2 linked regions of the Homo sapiens genome follow. The protein of the gene in region 1 interacts with the protein of each later gene in a biochemical or structural test. Each region holds a gene or a part of one and is shown on either strand. Other genes may lie near its edges.

Region 1 (8,597 bases):
GTCTGGAGATGTGAATTTAGGAGTCATCCACACACAGCAGGAGGAGATGAGATTGTAAAAAGTAAAGTAGAGATTCCTCTTCAAAGAGACTTTCCTCCCCATCTAATTAGGAATAAATAGTTACTTCTCAGCCCAGGCGTGGTGGCTCACGCCTGTAATCCTAGCACTTTGGGAGGCTGAGGTGGGCGGATCACCTGAGGTCAGGAGTGCAAGACCAGCCTGACCAATGTGGAGAAATCCCGTCTCTACTAAAAAAATACAAAATTGGCCGGGCATGGTGGCACATGCCTGTAATCCCAGCTACTCGGGTGGCTAAGGCAGGAGAATCGCCTGAACCCGGGAGGCAGAGGTTGTGGTGAGCGGAGATTGCGCCATCCAGCCTGGGCAACAAGAGTGAAACTCCGTCTCAAAATGTATTCAAAGACCTGTGCTAACATTCTTAAATATCTGCTAGCCGTAATAAAGAAATCAATGTACTTTATGTTCTTAGCTCCCACAATTTAGCCTAAATATTTGCCCTGGCATGCTTACACTGGTCCAAGCAAGCATGAGTCATAGCCTGTTCCTCTTCCTTATTTAAAGGTGTTTTTACCTTTCTCAGCATTCCACAGGTTACTTCCCTTGTTCGCCTCTGCCTCTGCTTTTTTTTTTCCTTTTTTTTGAGACAGAATTTCACTCTTGTTGCCCAAGCTGGAGTGCAATGCATGATCTTGGCTCACCGCAACCTCCACCTCCCAGGTTCAAGCGATTCTCCTGCCTCAGCCTCCCGATAGCTGGGATTACAGACATGCGCCACCACGCCCGGCTAATTTTTTTTTGCATTTTTAGTAGAGGCAGGGTTTCTCCATGTTGGTCAGGCTGGTCTCGAACTCCTGACCTCAGGTGATCCGCCCCCCTCAGCCTCCCAAAGTGCTGGGATTACAGGTGTGAGCCACTGCACCCAGCCAGCCTTTGCCTCTTTTAAAAAGTTCTAAGTTGCTAGCCAATCAGGACAAATATAGAATGTGAGGTCCTGTTCCAGCCAATGGAAGTCAGACACAGCAGTAGGGTGGACGCTTCAGGTTATAAATGACCCTGTCCTGTTTGTTCAGTGTACTCTACTGGCAAAACTGCTGGCGAGTGTACCCTTTCTGCAGAAAGTAAAAATGGCCTTGCTGAGGATGTTAAATTTATGTTCAAGTGCTATTTGTTTTTTGTTGTTTTTTTTTTAGATGAAGTCTCGCTCTGTCGCCAGGCTGGAGTGCAGTGGCACAATCTTGGCTCCCTGCAACCGCTGCCTCCCAGGTTCAAGCGATTCTCCTGCCTCAGCCTCCTGAGTAGCTAGGACTACAGGCGTGTGCCACCATGCCCAGCTAATTTTTTGTATTTTTTGTAGAGACGGGGTTTCACCATGTTGGCCAGGATGGTCTTGATCTCTTGACCTCATGATCTGCCTGCCTCGGCCTCCCAAAGTGCTGGGATTACAGGTGTGAGCCACCGCGCCCGGCCGTAAGTGCTACTTCTTTACGGCACTGGGGAACAAGCATTTCTAACAAGATCCCCCAGGGAGTAAACAAAGTTAAAGGAGAGGTCCAAAGGACTGAACCCTAGGCCACTCAAGTTTCCAGGTTAGAGGAGAAAGAAGCTGCAAAGGACACCGGAAGGGATGGCCAGCAGTAAAGAGAAAACCAGGAGAGTGTGGCACCCTGTGATTTAAGAGAAGAAAGTGTTTCTAAGAGGAAAGAGTGAATAACTGGGTCAATTGCTGCTAACAGGTCTAGTAAAATAAATAGAGTATGAGTTTACCACTGCATTTAACAAGGTGAAGGCCATTGGCATTCTTCATACGAGCAGTTTTGGAGGTGATAGAGGCAAGAACCTGATTTGGGAGGTTTAAGGAGGAATAGGAGGAGAACTGGAGAAGAGTACAGAAAATGCTTTCCAGGAGTTTTGCTATAAAGGGAAAAAGAGAAATGGGACAGTAGCTGGAGGGGGATGTGGGAGTCAAGAGAGGGTTTGTTAAACTTCAGAGAAATTACAGCAAATTAGCACATTTGGGTTTTGTTTGTTTGTTTTTGAGACAGGGTCTCCCTCTGTCGCCCAGACTGGAGTGCAGTGGTGAGATCTCTGCTCACTGCAACCTCGACCTCCTGGGCTCAAGCAATCCCTCCACTTCAGCCTTCTGAGTAGCTGGGACTACAGGTGCCTACCACCACACCTGGCAAATTTTTGTATTTTTGTAGAGACAGGGTTTCACCATGTTGCCCAAGCTGGTCTCGAACTCCTGACCTCAGATGATCTGTCCACCTCGGCCTCCCAAAGTGCTGGATTACAGGCGTGAGCTACCGTGCCTGGCCGAAATCATCTTCTTTCTAAATCTGTTCCTTCTTCTGGTGTTGCTATCTCATTTGGTAGAAATTCTATTTAATTATCCAATTTAGAAAACTGCCATATAGTAGTGTCTTCATGGTGAATGATAGTCACAATTTCATCATGTGCTAAGTGAAGCAAGGGATGACACAGGGAGCTGTGGATACTGAGGAAAGGGGTGTGACCAGACTTGAAGGTCAAATATCAGAAAGGTGAAGATATACCGGTCAGGTCAACATCATCAAGCTGTAGCAAGTCCTCATTCTGTCCAAGGCGTTTGAACCAGAGTGACTCTATCTTGAATGGGGGCTGGGTAAAATAAGGCTGAGACCTACTGGGCTGCATTCCCAGGAGGTGAAGACATTTTTTTTGCCTGAGTTTCCCACCGTCGCCTGGGATGGAGTGCAATGCCACGATCTTGGCTCACTGTAACCTCCGCCTCCTGTTCAAGCAATTGTCCTGCCTCAGCCTCCTGAGTAGCTGGGATTACAGGTGCCCGCCACCATGCCTGGCTAATTTTTGTATTTTTAGTAGACCCAGGGTTTCACTATGTTGGCCAGGCTCATCTCGAACTCCTGACCTCGTGATCCGCCCACCTTGGCCTCCTAAAGTGCTGGGATTACAGGCATGAGCCACCATGCCTGGCCTAAGGCATTCTTAGACACAGGATGAGATAGGAGGTCTACACAAGATACAGGTCATAAAGACATTGCTGAGAAAACAGAATGCAGTAAAGAAGCTGGTTAAAACCCACCAAAACCAAGATGGCCATGAGACTGACCTCTGGTCGTCCTCACTGCTTATTATATGCTAATTATTATACGCTAATTATTATACATTAGCATGCTAAAAGACATGCCCACCAGTGCATGACAGGTTACAAATGCCATGGCAAAGTCAGGAAGTTACCCTATATGGTCTAAAAAGGGGAGGAGGCCAGGCGCGGTAGCTCACACCTGTAATCCCAGCACTTTGAGAGGCCGAGGTGGGCGGATCACCTGAAGTCCGGAGTTCGAGACCAGCCTGACCAACATAGTGAAACCCCGTCTCTACTAAAAAATACAAAAAAATTAGGCGGGCGTGGTGGCAAAAGCCTGTAATCCTAGCTACTTGGGAGGTTGAGGCAGGAGAATCGCTTGAACCCAGGAGGCGGAGGTTGCAGTGAGCCCAGACCACACCATTGCACTCCAGCCTGGGCAACAAGAGCAAAACTCCGTCTCAGGAAAAAAAAAAGTCTTCTCTGCCTCACTATACAAAATGCAAATCTCCATTATAGCACTCAACAGCTGTATATCTTCAGTGGGTACTTTGAATAAAGGTCTTCCTTTTTTTGTTTTTTTTTTTGTTGTTATTGTTGTTTTATTGTTGTTGTTATTGTTGTTTTGTTTTGTTTTTGTTTTTTTTTTGGAGACAGAGTCTCGCTCAGTCGCCCAGGCCGGAGGGCAGTGGCGCGATCTCCGCTCACTGTAAGCTCCGCCTCCTGGGTTCCCGCCCTTCTCCTGCCTCAGCCTCCAGAGTAGCTGGGACTACAGGCGCCCGCCACTACGCCCGGCTATTTTTTTTGTATTTTTAGTAGAGAGGGGGTTTCACCGTGTTAGCCAGGATGGTCTCGATCTCCTGATCTCGTGATCCGCCCGCCTTGGCCTCCCAAAGTGCTGGGATTACAGGCGTGAGCCACCGCGCCCGGCGGCAAGGTCTTCCTTTCAAGCCATAACTCTCACCTGTCCCTGTCTCAGAAATTGTGGCCCTCTCACGCCAAGCTTTTCTCTTCTGTGCCTTTGCTCCTTGTGGTTTCTTTTTTTCTGGAATGGTGTCTTTCTTCTATCCTGGATAAGTCCAACTCACCCGTTAAAAGCGGGCTTCGGAATTACTTCTGGGAAGCCTTTTCTCAAGTACCCCGAAGCCTCCCAAGACTGGGATGGGGATCTTTGTATTTCTACCGCTCACTCCCTAACCCACTTCCAAGGGCAGGGACCACATCTTACTTTCTTCTGCCTTCAGCGAATTTTTTTGTTTTTTTTGAGACGGAGTTTTACTCTTGTTGCCCAGGCTGGAGTGCAATGGCGTTATCTCGGCTAACCACAACCTCCGCCTCCCGGGTTCAAGCGATTCTCCTGCCTCTGCCTCCCGACTAGCTGGGATTACAGGCATGCGCGACCGCGCCTTGCTAATTTTGTATTTTTAGTAGAGACGGGGTTTCTCCATTTTGGTCAGGCTGGCCTCGAACTCCTGACCTCAGGTGATCCGCCCACCTCGGCCTCCCAAAGTGCTGGGATTGGATCCTTGAGCCACGGTGCTCGGCCCAGTGAATGTTTATCTAAAGAATTCAGCCTAAGGTTTTCCAGCAGGCAAGCAGCTGAGTCAGAAGTTAGCGCTTAGATTCTGGCAGAGCTCTAATTCAAATTCAAAATTCTTAAATATCCTCACTTTAGTAGAGTTCTTTACAGTTTGCAAAACAATTCTCATAAAGCTACTCTTTATGTCCTGGGGCAGGAGTCGCAGAAAGGAAATGTTTTAAACCAGGAGCTAGAGAGGAACTAGAAAATCCTGGCATAGAGGTAACAGTCTTGAGAAGGGAGCCAACAGCAAACATGACCTTGCGCACCAGAGAAACTCCACCCTGGCACCTCGGACCCCCGCCCGCACAGTCTGCGGCGCACTGAGCACTCCCACCTCGAAGACTACAAATCCCAGCATGCCTCACAGTCAGTGGCAGGACGCAGGGCATGCCGGGACACGTAGTCCCACCCTAGCACGGGAAAAGGCCGGAAGGTCCCATGACGTCAGGAGGGCTCGGGAAAGGGGTTCGGAACCGGTCTAGGCTCAAGTTAAATCTCCCTCTAAAGAGCCAACACTGGTTTCTTTGGCGACTCGGTTTCTACTCTAAACAGGTCCCGCTCCACAGTCTGGGCGGGCCTGTGTGTGCGTTGAGTAGCCTCTAGCGTGAAAACTTCATGGTTAAAAGGGAAGTACCGGAGGCAAGAAATAGCTTTCGAGGCACTGGTTTGTTAGAGTAGTGGTACGTAGTGCGCCGCCCTGAACGGGGGCTGAGACGCTGCTTTTCCAGAAGTGCCAGTGAGGACGTGGCAAGACCGCCTCGGACGTACGCTTCCTCTACCTCAGCCCGTCGGGTTAGGGGCGCGGGAGGCGCAGAGGCTGCTGGGAACGCGCATGCGCTCAGCGCGGCGGGGAGTCCACCTTTAACGTCCGCGGGCGCGGGGTGTGTCGGGTGTCGACGGCGGCGCTTTGCGGCCGGTCGTGCGGGTCGGGCGCGGGCGGGCGCGGCGGCAGTGGCGCGCACAGGTGATTGACTGGCCAGCTGCCTGAAGGAGCGCCAGGTCCTCCTTGCTGGCAGGTGGCGAAGCCCATTGGGGCGGCGGTGCAGACCGCGGCGGCGGCTGCGGCGGTCTGGCTCGGGAGGCGTTCCTGGGGCCAAGGCCATGGCCCCGCGGCTGCAGCTGGAGAAGGCGGCCTGGCGCTGGGCGGAGACGGTGCGGCCCGAGGAGGTGTCGCAGGAGCACATCGAGACCGCTTACCGCATCTGGCTGGAGCCCTGCATTCGCGGCGTGTGCAGGTGAGGCCCGCGCACCGCGCCTCGCGGGCTCCTCGCGCCGGACCTTGGAAAGCCCGGGCGGGGTAGGGGAAAGGAAGACGGCAGCCCTTTGCGTGCATTTGGGAGGCGCGGAGCCGAGCGAGGTGGAGTTTCCCCCTTTGCGCCGTCTGCGCGACCTGGGAAACGCAGGCTTCCCGGGCTGTGCGCGGAGGTGATGCTGGCCAAAGCACTTTAGGAAGGTTTGGGTTCCCATCCAGAAGATGGCGGTGGAGATGAAGGCAGGAGCTGAGAGCTTAGCAAGCGTTGATGGTTGGGGTATCTTGGCCACAGCACGGCTCTTTCGTTTGTAAAAAGGAACTTTTTGGAAGTGAGCTTCATCACAGTGTATCTTGTTGGTGTTGACACCGAAGGCCTGATCATCTTAGTATTATTTTTGTAGAGGGCAGCTTTAGAAAAAACTGTGGTCAGCCTACGTCATCGATACCCTGCACCCCCGTTGGCCTTCCCTCACTCGTTAATCTAGTATTTTTTTTAAGCCTTTCTTTGGTCGTTCTGGTTCGACACCAGTTTACCGAGTACCAAGTTTAAGCTGTGATAGTGCTGTCCTTCACGTCTGCGCCGCCCTTGAACTTTACCTTTCCTTAACCCCCTCATATAGATTGAATCCTTAGGCTTTGCTCCCGTTTATTCCCTTTTTTCCACCTTGTAACGCGGGAACTATAGTTTTTGTTTCAGAATGTTGTTGAAATTGACTTGGCCAAGCCGGGCATGCTCAGTAGCCGTCTTTCGGCAGGCATTTAGGAAATGCTTTCTGGAGTTTTTACATTCCGCTGGGGGATCCGGAAGGAATGGAAGTCATGGTCTCTGGCTTTGGAGCTTAAAGTCTAGTATGAGAAGTGAAATAAGTTAGGGAGTTTCTATAAAGCAAACGAATAAGTCCAAGCTCTGGGCGTCTGTCTCACAAGGAGGGTAAATCTGACTTTAACAGTAAGTTCTGGAATGTTTGAAGTCTGTGTATAATAGAAATAATCAAGCTTCAGTCAGTTTCTCAACGTAATTAGTTTCCAGACTAACCAAATAATGTAAACTACTAATAGTTCTGGTGGTTTTTGAGACAGGGTCTCACTCTGTCACACAGGCTGGAGTGCAGTGTCACGAGCTCGGCTCACTGCAACCTCCGTTTCCCAGGCTCAAGCGATCCTCCCACCTCGGCCTCCGGAGTAGCTGGGATTAGAGGCACGGGCCACCACGCCCGACTCAGTTTTGTATTTTTAGTGGAGACGGGTTTTCGCCATGTTGGCCAGGCTGGTCTCGAGCTCTGGGCTCAAGCGATCTGCCCACCTCTTCTGGGATTACAGGCGTGAGCCACCATGCTGGGCCAATTTCTGATATTTATTTATTTATTGAGACGGTGTTTCGCTCTTATTGCCCAGGCTAGAGTGCAATGGCGTGATCTCGGCTCACTGCAACCTCTGCCTCCTTGGTTCAAGCGATTCTCCTGCCTCAGCCTCCTGAATAGCTGGGATTACAGGCATGCACCATCATGCCCGGCTAATTTTTTTTTATTATTTTTATTTTTTGTATTTTTAGTAGAGACAGGGTTTCTCCATGTTGGTCAGGCTGGTCTCGAACTCCTGACCTCAGATAATTTGACCGCCTTGGCCTCCCAAAGTGCTGGCATTACAGGCGTGAGCCACCGCCCGCCAGGCCGATACTTTTTTTTTTTTCGAGACAGCGTCGTGAGACGCTGGATAAATTTAAAAAAATAAATTTTTAAAATAAAAATTTTAAAAGAAAAAAGAATAGGCCGGGTGCGGTGGCTCATGCCTGTAATCCCAGCACTTTGGGAGGCCGAGATGGGCGGATCACGAGGTCAGGAGTTCGAGACCAGCCTGGCCAGCATGGTGAAACCCCGTCTCTACTAAAAATACAAAAATTAGCCGGGGGTGGTGGCGGGCGCCTGTAATCCCAGCTACTGGGGTGGCTGAGGCAGGAGAACCCTGGAACCCGGGAGGTGGAGGTTGCGGTGAGCCGAGATCACGCCACTGCACTCCAGCTTGGGCAACAGGGCGAGACTCAGTCTCAAAAAAAAAAAAAAAAAAAAAATTATCTTATCTTGGCTCTGTATGCCCTGTATGTTCCGCCTCTAAATTTCCCTATTCTGGACATTTCATATAAATGGAATCCTAAAATACGTGGACTTTTGTGACTGATTTCCTTTACTTATGTATTTAAGGGTCATCCATGTTGTAGCATGTTTCAGCACTTCATTTCATTAAAAAAATACCTGGGAAATACATATGACAGTGTTTACCATTTTAAAGTGCACAATTCGGTGGGTTTCAGTACCTTTATAGTGTTGTACAACCATCACCACTGTCTGGTTCCAGAACTTTTCATTATCCTAAAAGGAAACTGAGCATCTGTTAGTCACTTCCCATTTTCCCCCCTCGCCCAGCCCCTGGCAACTGCTAATCTACTTTCTGTCTCTGGATTTCTCTATTAATATTTCATAGCAATGGAATTATACAGTACGTGGCCATTTGTGTCTGGTTTCACTTAACGTAATGTTTCCAAGGGTTATCCCTGCTGCGCATGTGTCACTACTTTATTCCTTACGGCTGAGTAGTATTCCATTTTATGGATAATACCACATTTTATATATCTATTCATCAGTTGAGGGACATTTTGATTA
Region 2 (12,086 bases), on another chromosome or scaffold:
GAGGATCGCTTGAGCCCAGGAGCTTGAGACCACCCTGGGCAACACAGCAAGACCCTGTCTCTACAAAAGAATAAAAAATAAATTAGCCTGTGTGGTGTGGTGTGGTGTGGTTGGTGTGGTGGCACGCACCTGTAGACTTAGCTACTCTGGAAGCTGAGGTGGAAGAATCACTTAACCCAGGAGGTCAAGGCTGCAGTGAGCTGTGATCAGGCCACCACACTCCAGCCTGGATGACAGAGTAAGACCCTGTCTCAAAAACATAAAAAATAAAATAAAAAATAGGTCAGGTGCGGTGGCTCATGCCTGTAATCCCAGCACTTTGGGAGGCCGAGGCGGGCAGATCATGAGGTCGGGAGATGGAGACCATCCTGGCTAACACAGTGAAACCCCGTCTCTACTAAAAATGCAAAAAACTAGCCGGGCGTGGTGGCTGGCACCTGTAGTCCCAGCGACTCGGGAGGCTGAGGCAGAAGAATGGTGTGAACCCGGGAGGTGGAGCTTGCAGTGAGCCGAGATTGTGCCACTGCACTCCAGCCTGGGCGACAGAGCGAGACTCAGCCTCAAAAAATAAAATAAAATAAAATAAAATAAAGACAGTGAGAAAATGTGGTCAGGAGGGCTGAGACTGGGAACCAAGACTGCTGTATTTGCCTTGCTTTGTTGTCAAAAGCTCTTAGAGCTCCCATTTTCTACCCCCATTAACAGGCCTGAAGGGTGGTGCGGTGGCTCACGCCTGTAACCTCAGCACTTTAGGAGGCTGAGGCAAGTGGATTGCTTGAGCCCAGGAGTTCAAGACCAGCCTGGGCAACATAGCGAGACCCTGTCTCTGTGGGAAATTTAAAAATTAGCCAGGTGTGGTGGTGCGCACCTGTAGTCCCAACTACTAAGGAGGCTGAGGCAGAAGGATTGTCTGAGCCCAGGAATTCAAGGCTGCAGTGAGCTATGATTGTGCCACTACACTCCAGCCTGAACAACAGATTGAGACCTTACCTCAGTAAAATAAAATAAAATTTAAATTTTAAAAATGTAAGAAAAAAAGGAGGCCTGGCACTACTTCTAGGATGCCCCAAATTTAGGCAACTCTCACAGTCCCTTGAAAGAGAAGTGGCAGCTGGGTATAGGCCCTCCCAAGTGTCATGCCCCCTGACAGTCCTGATGGACTCTGCCCTGTGTAAGATTGCATCACCACCACCACCACCTCTCTGGGCTTCCCCAGACATCACAGGAACACGTTCCCCGCCCCAACCCCCGCCGGCTCTGGCCCTCCTCCACATCATGCTCCACATCATGCTCCAGGCCAACTGGACTCTGGGCGGCCAGCACAGGCAGGGTCAGGGGGTGACTTCTGTGCCTCGTGGCACTGCCACCTGGGCCTGAGCAAGAGGGCTCCATTCTCCTACCCGCCCAAACCCTCATCCCTGTCCTAGCCCCAGTGCTAGAAATAAAGAGACCAGAATTTTCCTTCTGGCCTAAGGGCCCCAGAGGAATACCCACTGGAACTCACAGCTGCCTCATGGAAACTGCTGCAGCAGTGGTGAAGCTAGAAAGACTAGAGGTATGAGGGAAAATTGCCCTTCCCCACCTGGCTCATAAGGCGTTCCCTCCCCCAAGTCCCAGACCTTGGGGACTGAGCATGTGAAATCATCCTCTTTCTTGCATCATGCGTGTCCACATTGCACCCCCCCACCCCCATACCCCTACTTCAGGCCCAGTCACCATGGCCAGATGGTGAAACCTGAGCTGATGGGGAGGAGGACCTCCACCCCCTGCAGGGGCCTGATGGGCAGCACAGCTGGCCAATCCTGGGACTCAGAGGGTAGGTCGGCTGGCTGACCACTAGGTTTGGAAGACCCAGGCAGCTGGCTCTAAAGAGGCCCCAGGTCAGTAGCCAGACATGAGCTGTGAGGGTCAAGCACAGCTATCCATCAGATGATCTACTTTCAGCCTTCCTGAGTCCCAGACAATAGAAGACAGGTGGCTGTACCCTTGGCCAAGGGTAGGTGTGGCAGTGGTGTCTGCTGTCACTGTGCCCTCATTGGCCCCCAGCAATCAGACTCAACAGACGGAGCAACTGCCATCCGAGGCTCCTGAACCAGGGCCATTCACCAGGAGCATGCGGCTCCCTGATGTCCAGCTCTGGCTGGTGCTGCTGTGGGCACTGGTGCGAGCACAGGGGACAGGGTCTGTGTGTCCCTCCTGTGGGGGCTCCAAACTGGCACCCCAAGCAGAACGAGCTCTGGTGCTGGAGCTAGCCAAGCAGCAAATCCTGGATGGGTTGCACCTGACCAGTCGTCCCAGAATAACTCATCCTCCACCCCAGGCAGCGCTGACCAGAGCCCTCCGGAGACTACAGCCAGGGAGTGTGGCTCCAGGGAATGGGGAGGAGGTCATCAGCTTTGCTACTGTCACAGGTGGGTGAGGGAGAGAGCAACAGGCAAAGAGCAGACAGGGAAAGGGAGGCAGAAGGGGAGCCTGGCAGGAGCAGCAGAGGGAGTGGGGTGTGGCAGGAGAAGGAGGAGCTGGGGCAGGGACTGGTTGCAGAGGACACAAAGCAGTCTCTACTTTTCTAGAGGTAGGTTCGAGGGAGAGCAGTGGGCAGGGCTTGGGGAGTCTCAGAGGAGAGCTTCATCTCTACTCACATTTTCTTTCCCTTTTCTGTCTTTCGGGCAGACTCCACTTCAGCCTACAGCTCCCTGCTCACTTTTCACCTGTCCACTCCTCGGTCCCACCACCTGTACCATGCCCGCCTGTGGCTGCACGTGCTCCCCACCCTTCCTGGCACTCTTTGCTTGAGGATCTTCCGATGGGGACCAAGGAGGAGGCGCCAAGGGTCCCGCACTCTCCTGGCTGAGCACCACATCACCAACCTGGGCTGGCATACCTTAACTCTGCCCTCTAGTGGCTTGAGGGGTGAGAAGTCTGGTGTCCTGAAACTGCAACTAGACTGCAGACCCCTAGAAGGCAACAGCACAGTTACTGGACAACCGAGGCGGCTCTTGGACACAGCAGGACACCAGCAGCCCTTCCTAGAGCTTAAGATCCGAGCCAATGAGCCTGGAGCAGGCCGGGCCAGGAGGAGGACCCCCACCTGTGAGCCTGCGACCCCCTTATGTTGCAGGCGAGACCATTACGTAGACTTCCAGGAACTGGGATGGCGGGACTGGATACTGCAGCCCGAGGGGTACCAGCTGAATTACTGCAGTGGGCAGTGCCCTCCCCACCTGGCTGGCAGCCCAGGCATTGCTGCCTCTTTCCATTCTGCCGTCTTCAGCCTCCTCAAAGCCAACAATCCTTGGCCTGCCAGTACCTCCTGTTGTGTCCCTACTGCCCGAAGGCCCCTCTCTCTCCTCTACCTGGATCATAATGGCAATGTGGTCAAGACGGATGTGCCAGATATGGTGGTGGAGGCCTGTGGCTGCAGCTAGCAAGAGGACCTGGGGCTTTGGAGTGAAGAGACCAAGATGAAGTTTCCCAGGCACAGGGCATCTGTGACTGGAGGCATCAGATTCCTGATCCACACCCCAACCCAACAACCACCTGGCAATATGACTCACTTGACCCCTATGGGACCCAAATGGGCACTTTCTTGTCTGAGACTCTGGCTTATTCCAGGTTGGCTGATGTGTTGGGAGATGGGTAAAGCGTTTCTTCTAAAGGGGTCTACCCAGAAAGCATGATTTCCTGCCCTAAGTCCTGTGAGAAGATGTCAGGGACTAGGGAGGGAGGGAGGGAAGGCAGAGAAAAATTACTTAGCCTCTCCCAAGATGAGAAAGTCCTCAAGTGAGGGGAGGAGGAAGCAGATAGATGGTCCAGCAGGCTTGAAGCAGGGTAAGCAGGCTGGCCCAGGGTAAGGGCTGTTGAGGTACCTTAAGGGAAGGTCAAGAGGGAGATGGGCAAGGCGCTGAGGGAGGATGCTTAGGGGACCCCCAGAAACAGGAGTCAGGAAAATGAGGCACTAAGCCTAAGAAGTTCCCTGGTTTTTCCCAGGGGACAGGACCCACTGGGAGACAAGCATTTATACTTTCTTTCTTCTTTTTTATTTTTTTGAGATCGAGTCTCGCTCTGTCACCAGGCTGGAGTGCAGTGACACGATCTTGGCTCACTGCAACCTCCGTCTCCTGGGTTCAAGTGATTCTTCTGCCTCAGCCTCCCGAGCAGCTGGGATTACAGGCGCCCACTAATTTTTGTATTCTTAGTAGAAACGAGGTTTCAACATGTTGGCCAGGATGGTCTCAATCTCTTGACCTCTTGATCCACCCGACTTGGCCTCCCGAAGTGATGAGATTATAGGCGTGAGCCACCGCGCCTGGCTTATACTTTCTTAATAAAAAGGAGAAAGAAAATCAACAAATGTGAGTCATAAAGAAGGGTTAGGGTGATGGTCCAGAGCAACAGTTCTTCAAGTGTACTCTGTAGGCTTCTGGGAGGTCCCTTTTCAGGGGTGTCCACAAAGTCAAAGCTATTTTCATAATAATACTAACATGTTATTTGCCTTTTGAATTCTCATTATCTTAAAATTGTATTGTGGAGTTTTCCAGAGGCCGTGTGACATGTGATTACATCATCTTTCTGACATCATTGTTAATGGAATGTGTGCTTGTATGGTCTTGTGTTACAGTCTTTTTCAGTTTTAATTTCTAATGTGGTGAATTGATAGATGTAAATCATATGAACAAAAGCTCAATGATTTTTTTTTTTTTGAGACGGAGTCTCGCTCTGTCGCCCAGGCTGGAGTGCAGTGGCACAATCTCGGCTCACTGCAACCTCCACCTCCCAGGTTCAAGCGATTCTCCTGCCTCAGCCTCCTGAGTAGCTGGGACTACAGGCCTGCGCCACCATGCCCAGCTATTTTTTGTATTTTTAGTAGAGATGGGGTTTCACCATGTTGGCCAGGCTGGTCTCGGACTCCTGACTTGAGGTGATCCGCCTGCCTTGGCCTCCCAAAGTGCTGGGATTACAGGTCTGAGCCACTGTGCCTAACCTAATGACTTTTAAGAGTATAGAGGAAACCAAAAAGTTTGAGACTCACTGGTCTATAGAACTGGGTGGGGAGAAGAAAGTAAGGTGTTCTAAGAGAGCTCTTCTTGCTGGGCACCGGTGGTCCCAGCTACTTAGGAGGCTAAGGCCGGAAGACCGCTTAAACCCAGGAGTTCGAGGCTATGATCACACTTGTGAATAGCCTCTGCACTCCAGCCTGGGCAAATAGTGAGGCCCCGTCCCAAATAAAAATAAATAAATACATAAATACATAAATAGCTCCTCTGGAAGAAGGGGCTCGAGGCTGGGACAGGAGCATGTGTGGGGTGCCTTTTTTTCAGTGCCCATTAGTCTGGTCTGACTGAGCTGGGTCTCTGACCCTCTGGGGATAACTAGCCTGGGTCAAAGTCCCAGATCTCCCCCTACCTTCACCTTTTCTTTTCCCCCTTGACCCTCAGACTGAACAGTTAACCCACTGACCTTCCACACCCAAGGGGGTGGTTCTTGGAAGCAGAGCTAGGATGTGGGAGGTCTGCCTGTGGGGTTGAAAAAAAGGGGAGAGGGTGCCCTTTTTCCTTGTCATGCTTCCTCCTCTTTCTCATAAAAATCAGAGACTGAAATGCTGCCCCTCCCTTATATCCGGTCACGATGGCAATGCAAATCTAAAGAGGCAGGGCACTTCCCTGTCAGGCAGTACCGCTGGGCATAGCAACCTCTGCCTCTCCGTTTCTCAGAGCTCACATATCCACCTCCTGGGCTTTTAAGTGGGCTTTAGTGAGGGGCTCCTCCTTCAACTGGGCTCCTCCTTCAGTTCCCCAGCTCTTCTGCTTCGACTCCGAGCGGGTGTCATGTGTGAGAACGGCCAGCAGAGGGAGCAGAAAGCCTGGAAGAGCAGCTAGAGCCTGCAGTGACGTGGTGCGGAGGGGCGGCACCCTCCAGAACTTCGAGACGTAGAGCCGGGGTTCTAGGGAAAGGGGCTTCAGTCCCAGGGCTCCTTGGTGACCTCGTGAACCACACCCTGCACCCAGAGCCTCAGCCGCTGCTCCTTGCTTTTATGCTCCATAGACTCCTCACCTTCTTCCAGAGCCCCCAACCCAACTTGATTTGCCCCAAACCGCAACTCTGTCCCGGCCGCTGCAAGTTCCATCCAAAGGGTGAGGCCTGCAGATAAACCACAGGATGGCAGAATGCTCAGTTAGCACCAACCAAAGGCGACTACCCTACCTCCACTATTATCGTTCTCGGTTGAACTTCTCCCCCTGCCCCGCAATATTTTCCTCAATCTGGTTGTCGGGGCCTCTTTGGGGCCAGCCGATCCAGAAATCCAAGCCGGGATTTAGTACTCACCAACAGCAGCGTGTTCAGCCGGGGCGGGGGGGGGGGCGTAAGCAGTATAGGGTCCCTCAAGGGAGGGGGAGGATCCTGGGGGTCCTGGGGGTGCAATAAGCCCGGCACCCCTTCTCTTGCTTCCAGCTACCCCGCCTCATCCTCCAGAACGGCAAGAGGGAGGGAAATAGAAGGGAGGTGAGGGGCGAGCGGGAAGAGCGGCGGCGCGCCAGCGGCTGGAGAGAGAAAAAGTTTTTGCAAAAGGGAAAAAAAAAGTTTGCGCTTCTCGCGGGTGGTCCGGGCTTGCGGCCCGGCGGGCTGGGCCGGCGGGAGGGCTGGGGGCCAGGTTGGGGGGGTGGGGGTGGCATCGAGGCTGCGCTGCCGTGGCCCTCTCCGCCCCCCCTCCCCACCGCACACCCCCCAGCCCAGACTCCAGCCCTGGACCGCGCATCCCGAGCCCAGCGCCCAGACAGAGGTGAGAAGGGGGGGCAGGCGGGGGACCACCTGGGAGCAGTGGGGGAGGGGGCCTGAGGGGATGCTCAGCTTCTTAGGGACTCATCCCAGACCCGGGACATAGAGGCAAAATAGGGGTGGGAGAGCCTGGGGTGAGACATTAGAAACTCCAGATTTTTCACTTGTGTCTTTCTCTGTATCTTCTTTTTCTTCCCTTTTTTTCTTCTGTCAGTCTGTGTATCTCTGTCTCAGGGAACCGTGGGTCTTTGTCTCCGCCTCTCCCATATATTAGAAATATCTTACTTTCATGCGGTTAAGTTTAAGAGGCTGGAGGGATGGCTAGCTGGAGGTCTGCGTTGTAGAGAGGTAACCCCAGGTGTGTGTCTGCGCGTGGGGTAGGAAGATGTCAGTGTTTCTGAAAGGTGGGGACTGCAAAGGAGGGAGCTCCAGGTGGGGTGGGGACGGGTGTGTGGGAGGCAACAGAGCCACTAGGGGCCAGCCAGGCTTGAACCTTTGACCTGTCTTGTGACAGATGTGCCAGTGGATGCTTGTGCTTTAGGGGAAAGGAGTGTCTTCTGGACTTGGAAGGGGGCTGGGGCGGGGGGGGGCTGTCCAAGGTCTAGTGAAGGCCCTAGAATGACCCCATGCAATTTGGACTCCTGAGTCCCAAGGGCTGTGGGCAAGGAGCTCAGGAGGAGCCGGGGAGACCTTGTCTTGACCCTCTGACCTCAGGACCACCGGGGCAGCGGGAGCCAGCCGCAGGGAGACCCCTACCGGGGCTGGGCGGGACCACTGGCCACTGCCAGCCTGTGTATCCCCGTTGGCACCCCGCCCAAACGGGAGCTGGGGATCGAGGCCCCTCCTCTGGCTCAGACCACCCTGCCTGCCCTTGCTCCCCGCTCTGAATCCTCTTTCAGGTCCCATGACCCCGAAACAATCAGCACTGGGCAGCTAGCTTTCGGGACAGGATTACGGAAAGGGGACCCCGTAGAGCCTGGGGACTGAGGGTTTTAGGGGTCTGGAGAGCTGGGGTCTTCTAGGATAGGTCTTTACGTTCCAGTAGAGGGAGAAGGCGGGCGGTTTCCCGGGGGATATGTAAGGGTCGGAATAAGTGTGGTTTTCCCTAGGGGGCGGGGTCCAGAGACCTCTCCCCCTCCACCATTATCTCCCTGGCATCCCCGCCCTTGACGTCACCAGGGGGTTCCCGGGGGTCTGGAGGGGTTAACCCTTGGGAAGCCGGCTGCTATAACCAGCAACCTAAGGTGTCCGGGCCCCTCCTCCTCCCCATACACACCTAATTTTATTGACCCAGTCACTTTCTCTGCTTTCTCTCCCCTATACTTTCTGGATTCTTCTCCCTTTCTAACCCCACCAACGGGGACCCCCACTCTCCAGTAGTGCCCCCCTGGGCGCCACTGCCTGCTTTCCGGATGTGCTGAGAGGAGGAGGGAAGAATGTGGCCCGCCCCTCAGCCCCCACCCCTATGGCTCGCTCTACTGGGCTCCCGGGGCGGGTGGGGGGAGCGGAGCCGTCTGCAGCCAGTGCCTGCGGCGGCGACTTGGGTGGGCCGAGGAGGCACGGGGGCGGGGAAGGCGGGACCGGGAGTAGGGGGGCGGAGCCGACTCCTGGGAGTTGGGGAGCGGGGGTGCGAGGGGGACGCTGGAAAACAGGGAGACACCGAAGATGGTTTAGGGCTCCGGCAGGGGAACCCTAGAGCTCCCTGTCCCATCCCGAACTCTCACACCCCAGAAAAACTTTACCGAAGCTAAAAAAGTTGGCGACATTTTCCTTTTACTAGCCTGAAGGGGAGATATGGGTGGGCTGTGGAACGCGTGGGCGAGGAGGGGTGTAGCCCCATTTCCTTGGAGGCTCTTCGGCAGCTAGGCAGTGGGGCAGAAAGATGACTGAGTAGGCAAGTTTGGGGGAGTCTCTAGTGTTTGGGGGATCATTTGCAAACTTCCCTCCTTCCCCTGGGTGAGTCATAGAGGGAAGGAGGCGGGAGAATTGTCCCCCCATCCAGCTGCCAACCAGCTGTGCCCCCCGCCCCCCAACATTAGTTCCAAGGTCGAGTTGGGAGGTCTTGGATGCGGGATCCGCACCTCGGTTGGAAAAGGAGGAGTTAGAAAAGGGTACAGCCCAGGCTGCCGGGCCGGGCTGGGTCGCGGGGTCCGGGTTCCGCTCCCCATCTCACCCCGCCCTCACCCTAAATCCCAGCATCCCGGGATCACCCACCGCGCCGGCCGGCCCGGCCCGCTCCCGGTGGTTCTCCACCCCATCCCGCCCCACCCCACCCTCATTCCCGGGAGACTGGAAAACCCGGGATGGAGTCAAAACTGGAGTTTGAAAAGAAAAACGGACAGCAGCACCTTCTTCCTCGCTACGCTTTTATAAGGATCACATTGTTTTTTTCATTCTCTCAGAGTCTCCCCTCATACTTCCTTTCCTGTTCCCCCAAAACAGAGACCAAAAAGATTAGGTGGGCCTGATTTAAACTACCCCAGAATAACACCAGCTTTCACCTTTGTGCCCAACAGACCCAGAAGACTCCCCTCAGGAACCTTACCTCCTCCTCCACACTGTTTTCTGTCTAAGAGGGCAGATGGCTTGTGCTCCCTCCTGGCCCCACCTGGCTCTGTGTCGGGACTGTGGCTAGGGCTCCCTCTGCTGGACACTGCAGAGATTGTACACGGGCTGTCCCTGGGGAGGGGCACGAGAAGGAAGGGGGAACGGGCTCTAGCAGAGCCGCCCAGTGCTTGAAGTCAGATCCATCACACGAGTTCTCCCATCCCACCCTCAAAGCCGGCCCAGGGTTACAGCAAGAAGAATTAGAGGGTCCATGTTACTAAAATCACTTGAAGTTAATATAGGCACAATTAGTCCAAAACATGCCTTCTACACACAGACCACACAGGCAAAGCTCCCACCCAGGCAAAGCTCCCACCCAGTTCCCAAGAAGATCCCCAGAGTACACAGACTACAAGACTGCCTCTGCCTCTCTGGGACATCATTTCCCCTTACCCCTCCCCTCACTCAGCGAGTGATGCTTTTTTTGTTTTGAGACGGAGTCTAGCTCTGTCACCCAGGCTGGAGTGCAGTGGCACCATCTCGGCTCACTGAAACCTCCGCCTCCCAGGTTCAAGCGATTCTTCTGCCTCAGCCTTCCGAGTAGCTGGGATTACAGGCACCCGCCATCATGACTGGCTAATTTTTGTTTTTTTGTAGAGACGGGGGTTTCACCATGTTGGCCAGGCTGGTCTTCAACTGACCTCAGGTGATCCTCCCGCCTCAGCCTCTCAAAGCGTTGGAATTACAGGCGTGAGCCACTGTGCCCGGCTCAGTGATGCTCTTTTCAACTCGAATTCCGTGGCAGATGTCTTAGAGGGGTGGGGGATACCAGGGATGTTCTGCCCAGGATTCTGTGCCTGAGACTGCTGTCTGACAGTCTCTATTTCCTCCACCTTTATACCTACCTTCCCTTTCTGCAGTGTCCCCACACCCTCCTCTGAGACGCCATGTTCAACTCGATGACCCCACCACCAATCAGTAGCTATGGCGAGCCCTGCTGTCTCCGGCCCCTCCCCAGTCAGGGGGCCCCCAGTGTGGGGACAGAAGGTCAGTGTATATACCAATCCCTGGGCCTTGAGGATTTGGCAGATCTCCCACTTGGGCCCACCCCCACCCCATGCCAGTTTCCTATCTACAGGAGGATTTGAGGCCCCATGTCATATGGACCTGGAATCTGGGATCAGGTCATGTCTGGGGTTTTAAGGTGAGGTTTATGTATCCTCCATTCCCATTCCAGCTGTCTCTTTTTTCTAGGACTGTCTGGCCCGCCCTTCTGCCACCAAGCTAACCTCATGTCCGGCCCCCACAGTTATGGGCCAGCCAGAGAGACCAACAGCTGCACCGAGGGTGAGGGCTCAGGCAACACCTCTTCCCTTTCTGCCCCTCTCTGACTTGTTCTGAAAGAGAAAGTGGGAGGGCAGGGGATCTCACTTGGAGGAGGAGATGCTTGGAGATGTGAGGCGTCAGAGCACCATCAAGAAGTCACAGATGGGGCCGGGCGCGGTGGCTCACGCCTGTAATCCCAGCACTTTGTGGGGAAGCCGTGGCAGGAAGATCGCTTGAGGTCGGGAATTCAAGACCAGCCAGGCCAACATGGTGAAACCCTGTCTCTACTAACAATACAAAAATTAGCCGGGCGTGGTGGCTTGCACCTGTAGTGCCGATTACAGGGGAGGCTGAGGCAGGAGAATCACTTGAACCTGGGAACGCAGAGGTTGCAGTGAGGCAAGATGGTGCCACGCACTCCAGCCTGGGTTACAGAGCATGACTCTGTGTCTCTCAAAAAAAAAAAAAAAAAGTCACAGATAGCATCAATAGGGCAAAGCAGAATCAAGTATCATTGGTTTTGCCAAGTCAGGACCCATAGGTTAGGTGCATGGAGAGACATGCCCCTTTACCATATCCGTCTCCGCTGTCTCCTGCCCCAGGCCCACTCTTTTCTTCTCCCCGGAGTGCAGTCAAGTTGACCAAGAAGCGGGCACTGTCCATCTCACCTCTGTCGGATGCCAGCCTGGACCTGCAGACGGTTATCCGCACCTCACCCAGCTCCCTCGTAGCTTTCATCAACTCGCGATGCACATCTCCAGGAGGCTCCTACGGTCATCTCTCCATTGGCACCATGAGGTGCAGTCAGCCCCGGGCCAAGAGGCCCCTAAAGCCCCTACCCAAGTCCATTAAAAGTCTCAAGCCCTCAAACTACCTAACCCTATTTGAATCCTTGTCATTTCAAAGACAACTCTCCTCAGTACTTCCCTGGGACTGCCTCAACCACTACAAATCCCAAGTCTTCCAGAAATCCTCCAAATAGCCCAATCCTTCCTGAGACTTCCTAATTGTCTTAAGTAACTGCCTCCTCTCCTCCTCAGCCCATCTCTGGGATTCCCAGCCCAGATGAATCACCAAAAAGGGCCCTCGCCTTCCTTTGGGGTCCAGCCTTGTGGTCCCCATGACTCTGCCCGGGGTGGGATGATCCCACATCCTCAGTCCCGGGGACCCTTCCCAACTTGCCAGGTGAGAGTCCCCATATTGCTACCTGATTTCCCTCAGCTCAGGGTGGGTGGGTGGTGGATTTTGTAGGGGAAAGGTGAAGGAAGGACAAGGGATATAAGTTTTCAGTACTAGAAAAGTAAAGAGGTGTGGGTGCTGGGGTTCACTCCTTGCAGTTGAGTCAGACGCTTCCAAATGGGATCCCACCTTTTGCCCATCCCATTCACCAGTGTAGTCTGAGGAGGAAGTCCCTTCCAAACCCAGGAGGTTCCAGCTGC

Evidence for each region.
Region 2: of the proteins of USP48 (region 1) and GLI1, one has a biochemical effect on the other in vitro, tested with the Homo sapiens proteins (one study listed by BioGRID).

Annotation. Positions count from the first base shown.
Region 1 is NC_000001.11:21,780,150-21,788,746, reverse strand, and holds the start of USP48 (ubiquitin carboxyl-terminal hydrolase 48), read left to right. Parts: upstream 1-5,597; 5' UTR 5,598-5,789; coding exon 5,790-5,923; intron 5,924-8,597.
Region 2 is NC_000012.12:57,453,424-57,465,509, forward strand, and holds the start of GLI1 (zinc finger protein GLI1), read left to right. Parts: upstream 1-6,361; 5' UTR 6,362-6,778; intron 6,779-6,853; exon of another isoform or gene 6,854-7,132; intron 7,133-9,319; exon of another isoform or gene 9,320-9,549; intron 9,550-10,241; 5' UTR 10,242-10,268; coding exon 10,269-10,368; intron 10,369-10,575; coding exon 10,576-10,668; intron 10,669-11,249; coding exon 11,250-11,445; intron 11,446-11,687; coding exon 11,688-11,832; intron 11,833-12,086. Other genes in the region: INHBE (inhibin beta E chain preproprotein), read left to right, coding at 2,114-2,411, 2,671-3,425. UniProt on the Homo sapiens protein: Acts as a transcriptional activator. Binds to the DNA consensus sequence 5'-GACCACCCA-3'. Regulates the transcription of specific genes during normal development.